Homo sapiens: one gene and its partner. The protein of the gene in region 1 interacts with the protein of each later gene in a pairwise test. Each region holds a gene or a part of one and is shown in the gene's direction. Other genes may lie near its edges.

Region 1 (2,521 bases):
ACCCAAAAATCTGAGAACCCCTCCCCTTTTCTCCTCACCTAAACCCATCTCCTACTTTGGGCGCAGCACACATATTTTCTTGTCAACTTTTCCCCAAGCCCACCAACTTGGATTCAGATTGCGACATGCAGGACAGGCCAGTCATTCTCTCTCTCTGACTTTCTGTTTAATCATCTGTGGGCTAATTCCCCCTTCTCTGGTGCCATAAATTATGTGGCTCATAGTAGGTGCACCATCCAAGGAGAAGGTCCCTTTTTCCAACTTGTAATGATCACTAATTATTATTGCCGGCTGTCATGTCAGCCTCCTTACCAGCCACTTTCCTTTGGAAATAACTTTTTTATTGTTCCACAAATAGTATGTGCTCATTGTAGTACATTTTTTAAAAACCACAAATGAGCAAAGATTTTTTTAAAACCTTAAATGTCTGGCCGGGTGTGGTGGCTCATCCCTATAATCCTACACTTTGGGAGGCCAAGGTGGGCGGATCACTTGAGCTCAGGAGTTTAAGACCAGCCTGGGAAACGTGGTAAAACTCCGACTCTATTTAAAAAAAAAACAAAAACAAAAAAACCTTAAATGTCAAAAAAAAATAATATTTTCACCATCCAGACGTCACCATTATAAATTCTTAGTTCAGGGCTGGGCGCGGTGGCTCATGCCTGTAACCCTAGCACTTTGGGAGGCTGAGGCGGGCAGATCACTTGAGGTTAGGAGTTTGAGAACTGGCCTGGCCAACATAGCAAAACCTCATCTCTACTAAAATACAAAAATTAGCCGGGCGTGGTGGTGCGTGCCTGTAGTCCCAGCTACTCGAAAGGTTGAGGCAAGAGAATCGCTTGAACCTGGGAGGTGGAGGTTGCAATGAGCCGAGATCACACCACTGCACTCCAGCCTGGGCAACAGTGAAACTCCATCTCAAAAAATAAATAAATAAAATAAATTCTTAGTTCATACCCTTCCAGAATTCTCTCTCTTTTTAAAACCTAGATGAGATTAACCTGTTTTTTATTCAACTGTTGTCTCTACCTTCCCAATTTGATCAATTTTCATGTCATTGGCTGGGTGCGGTGGCTCCTGCCTATAATCCCAGTACTTTGGGAGGCCGAGGCGGGCAGATCACTTGAGGTCAGGAGTTCAAGACCAGCCTGGCCAACATGGTGAAACCCCATCTCTACTAAAAATACAAAAATTAGCTGGGCGTAGTGGCGCGTGCCTGTAATTCCATCTACTCGGGAGGCTGAGGCAGGAGAATCGCTTGATCCTGGGAGTTGGAGGTTGCAGTGAGCCAAGATCTTGCCATTGCACTCCAGCCTGGGCAACAAGAGTGAAATTCTGTCTCAAAAAAAAAAAAAAAATTCATGTCGTCTGATACTTTGACCTTAACCAGATTTCTCTAGTTGGCCCCAGAATGTCCTTTCTTGCTGGTTTTATGAAAACTAGCATTCAGATTCAGAGCACATGTTACATCTGGTTGTTTTATGGCCCTTAAATCTCTTTAGTGCGGTCCCTTTTTTCCTGAGACCAATTTGTTGAAGAGGCCAGCCCAGTCACCCCACAGGAAGTATGCTACCTTTTGGGTTTTTCTGCTGGCTTCCTGGTGGTATGATTTAACATGTCCCTCTCTTCCAGTTTTCCTGTCAGCTGAAAGTTAGATCTCATTTGCTTTGGGATCTTCCTTCAATCCTCTCCACAAGGCTCTGATGTGGTTACTCTCTACCCCCATTTAGGCAGAGGAGAAAACAGAGTCTGAGGGTACCAAGATGGGCCAACAGTCCCAGCTTCAGGGCCCATGTTCTCTCACCCACCTCTGGCCTGGTTCTCCTCCCCAGTCCCTGACACCTGTCTGGGGTCGGTGGTGCTGAGCCCGGGGCTGGCCTCTCCCCTTCTCTTTCCTGCAGTCCTTATCCAGCAGCCCTCAAGCCCAGCCCCCTCGGCCAGCAGAGCTGTCAGATGAGGAAGTGGCTGAGCTCTTTCAGCGGCTGGCAGAGACACAGCAGGAGAAATGGATGCTGGAGGAGAAGGTGCTGCCTGCCTGCCTGCCTGCCCATCCCCACTTGAAGTGCCCTTGTGGGTGTGGGGTCTGCCCGGGCCCGCCTCATGTGTGAACATGTACAGTAGAGGGGTCTCAGGTGGGCTGGGCCATCTTGCAGGTGAAGCACCTGGAAGTGAGCAGTGCTTCCATGGCAGAGGACCTCTGCCGGAAGAGCGCCATCATTGAGACCTACGTCATGGACAGCCGGATCGGTCAGTGTCCCCTCCCCGGCCCTCAGCCCTGGTCCAGCCTTCACCTGGCCCTCCCTCTCCATTCTGTGCTGCGGCTTCTCTCCTCTCCTCTCGGAACTCAGCGAAGCTACTGACAAGACCATGGCCTGTGGAGGGGAGAACAGGAAAGCACTGTCTCTTGATCTCGCCTCCTCCCTCTTCTCTCTTTCTCTGTCATCTCTCCACTCTCCATTCTCCATTGTGTCTCTCTGTCCACTTTCTCCTTTCCTCTCCCTGTGCCTCATCTTCCTCTCCT
Region 2 (3,500 bases), on another chromosome or scaffold:
TTGTTTTGGGGTTTATTGGAGGGTGTATTGTTTTGGGGTTTGTTGGAGGGTGTTTTATTTTGGGGTTTTTTGGAGGGTGCTTTGTTTTGGGGTTTTTTGGAGGGTGTTTTTTCTTTGGTTCAATTTTTTTCCTCCTTTTCCCTTTTCCTCTGCTTTTCCTTCCACTCACTGTTATTTCTTTAAAATATTTAACCATTCAAATACAGTAGTTGAAACTGTCTCCACCTCATTACTTACTGAGTTCCACACCTGTCACTGGGCGTTATGCCCTTCAGAATGGTACGCTGGTATGTCAGCAGTCACCATCTGTGAGCATCTTAACAGTGCACAGTTGGATGTGGTTCGGATATGGCAGGGCTACTTTCAGGCATAGGTTTTTAAATGTATCATTTGTTTGGGGGTTTTGAGAAAAATCTTTATGTCTCTTTGAGAATAGGGGCTGTGTGTATTATCTTTAAAACTAAATGCATCTTCTCAATGGAATGTTGGAGAAATGAATGGCTAGAGTAATGTCCATTCCCCATTGATGTAACTCTTGGTTTTAGTGTCACTTGTTTAAATCTATAAGCCTGTTAATGTTCTAAAATTAAATATGCTGTTCTTGTTTTTCTTTTTTAGTCAAAGATGACTCAAATCATACAATAGGAGTGGAATTTGGTTCAAAGATAATAAATGTTGGTGGTAAATATGTAAAGTTACAAATATGGGATACAGCAGGACAAGAACGATTCAGGTAGCTTTTCTCTAACTTAATAAAAATATTTGAAAATTTGATTTAAAATAATTGATGATATTCTCTCAATATATAAGGTCTCACTCCCTCCCCAACACACCCCTTCCTTGTCCTAATCTCAGAAACTTCATTTTTGGAAACTTTGATTGACAAGACAGCTAAAATTTAGGTTAGCTCTCTGCAGCATGGATTACTAAAGAATACAGGAGGATCTCCGCGCAACTGCATTATAATTCGGAGGCTGACCCATTCTCAGGAGGATGTGGCACTGTGTATTGTACAGTATGTTTCTAGATTCAAATCAAAGCACAAGCTTGTTTTTCTGTGTTCCTTTTTTAAAGAAGAACTTTTTAAAACCTTGTGAGGGTTTGTTTTGTTTTACATTAACTAGAGCATGTTCTGATGTTTGATACACACTCCACAAAATATTCTCTCCACACTTTAATTACAATAGGGTCATAACTGAGGCTCAGAATGACTTCAGTCACTGCAAATGAGGTTACATGTTTAGTATTCTGTAACTACTAAAGCAAGAAAATAGATTAATATTTTAGTTGTGGTTTTTGCACAGATGCACAAAGTCAGAACTGATATTCATAGTTTTATAATTCAGTGAAATAAAATCCACCCCATTTGTAAACATTTCACTTGAAGTTGAGTACATGTCGTATATTAAATAATTGAAGTTTGGCTGGGCACAATGGCGCATGCCTGTAATCCCAGCACTTTGGGAGGCCGAGGCAGACCTCCTCACCTGAGGTCAGGAGTTCAAGACCAGCCTGGCCAACATGGTGTAACCCCTTCTCTACTAAAAATAAAAAAATTAGCCGGGCGTGGTGGCAGGTGCCTGTAATCCCAGCTACTCTGGAGGCTGAGGCAGGAAAATCGCTTGAACCCGGGAGGTGGAGGTTGCAGTGAGCTGAGATCACGCCATTGTACTCCAGCCTGGGCAACAAGAGCAAAACTCCATCTCAAAAATTAATTAAGTAATTGAAGTTCAATAATTGCTTCAAAAATACCATAACCACCTTTAATCACCATCATTTTTCTGGAAGCATTGATTAAACATGGTGGATTCAATTAGACATTTATGTCTTCCCTCTCAGAACCCCACTGAAATGTCTGTTAAGTAACTGAAATTGAAGTAACTCAAAAAGGCCAAGATTGAGTGAGTGCACAATTATGATTGAGAGATTTCCAAAAAAATCTTAAAGATAGGAAGTAGATGGTGCTCTGACAGCAGAAGGAGCTCCACCTTAAGTACTGTAATGGGGGAAGCCATTTCTTCCTCTGGAGTCCCAGAAAAGGTCAGGATTTGGAAGCATCAGGTTCTACAGGAGGTAGAGGTTACAGAGGTTCATGTTTACACACGAAATAAGAGGTTCAGTCTTTTACGTTGAAATGGAGTCTAGACTCAAGGTCATAAGGCCCACCTGAGGGCATGGGGTCAGGCCTGAAAAGAGGGAAATTAAGTGAAAATGAAAGCCTCTGGCCCCCAACCCACCTCCCCTACCTCTTCCCTGGTCGCTGGCAGCCAGGTGTGTATGTCCCACATAGGAGAAAGGAGCCTTCTCTGCAGAAAAATGAATAGTCAGAAAGGAAAGGCTTGAAGGTAGTGACATTTTGCTTTCCCAGTCAAACAGCCCAGTCTCTATCCAGTCATCTGAAAGTGAAACCCTCCAAGCCCACCTGCTCCACCCACACATAAAGAGCTTCTTTTAGACTTTTTCATTCCTTGCTCTTAATGATCAGGCAGAATTTTGAAGAAAGTTTCTATAGCAAAAGAGAGAGCTCAAAGTAAAGAAGCTGGAACTTTGAGGGAGTAAGAAAAACACACTAAAACCACAGTATCCTTAGGAAGAAGAGCAGAGATTGCATTGGAGTATGTAATAGAAACAAAGTCATACTTAAAAAGAGCAATCAGAATAATATGTTAAATAAACTCATGGTGAAAAATGGGAGAGATGACATAAAGAATCCTCCAGAATTAATCCAGAAGATGCAATGACTATTAGGAGTTCCAGAAGAGAGAAGAGCAGAGAGAATAATAGAAGAAAATGTTTCACTGAAGGAATGAGATTCCAGATTAATTGGCCCACCTAAAATCAAACATAGTAAGGAAAAAGTCCAGACCAGAGCGTGCCATGTGAAATTTCAGAACACCACAGATGAAGTAAGGAAGACCAGAAAGGTTCCAAGAGGGAAAAAGCAGCCACATATAAAGTGTGAAAAATGGAATTGCTTTGCACCCTTCCACAGCAACATTGGAAGCTAAAAGAAATGGAAGCATTGCCTTCAAAACTCAGGGTGAAATAATTCTTCAACCTAAAATTCTAAACTTAGCCAAACTGTAAGTGTGCAAGTAAAGGCTGAATACCAACAGATGTGCAAGAAAGAGGAGGAAGCCAAGATTATCTTTCTCAGAGACTTCTTAGAAATGTACTTTCTTAGAAAGTTTAGGAGGATATACTTCACCAGGACAAGGGCATGATCCCAGAAAGAGGAAAATGAAGCCAGCAGGAAGATCCAGCTCAGAATGGCACAGGTCTAGAGGGACAGTGAGGGAAGACTAAGACAGCAGTCAGTATGTGATGGCACTGCCCTTCCAGGAGGACCAGGGGAACAAGTGAGGGGCTCTGTAAGAGCTCACGACTCTGTCAGAGCGGGGAAGAAACAGCTCTGAAATTCAGTTTCCTAAACCTTTTGTAGAAATGAGAAGAAAGAAACTGTAAGATCCATGAGTGTAAGGGTTTTTGAGTTTTCTGTT

Evidence for each region. Proteins that work in one complex are often made in the same cells at the same time.
Region 2: the proteins of GRIPAP1 (region 1) and RAB4A interact in binary tests that used the Homo sapiens proteins (3 or more experiments, as listed by UniProt).

The regions. Positions count from the first base shown.
Region 1 is NC_000023.11:48,975,744-48,978,264, reverse strand, and holds part of GRIPAP1 (GRIP1-associated protein 1), read left to right. Parts: intron 1-1,901; coding exon 1,902-2,024; intron 2,025-2,153; coding exon 2,154-2,247; intron 2,248-2,521. UniProt on the Homo sapiens protein: Regulates the endosomal recycling back to the neuronal plasma membrane, possibly by connecting early and late recycling endosomal domains and promoting segregation of recycling endosomes from early endosomal membranes.
Region 2 is NC_000001.11:229,288,111-229,291,610, forward strand, and holds part of RAB4A (ras-related protein Rab-4A), read left to right. Parts: intron 1-618; coding exon 619-733; intron 734-3,500. UniProt on the Homo sapiens protein: The small GTPases Rab are key regulators of intracellular membrane trafficking, from the formation of transport vesicles to their fusion with membranes.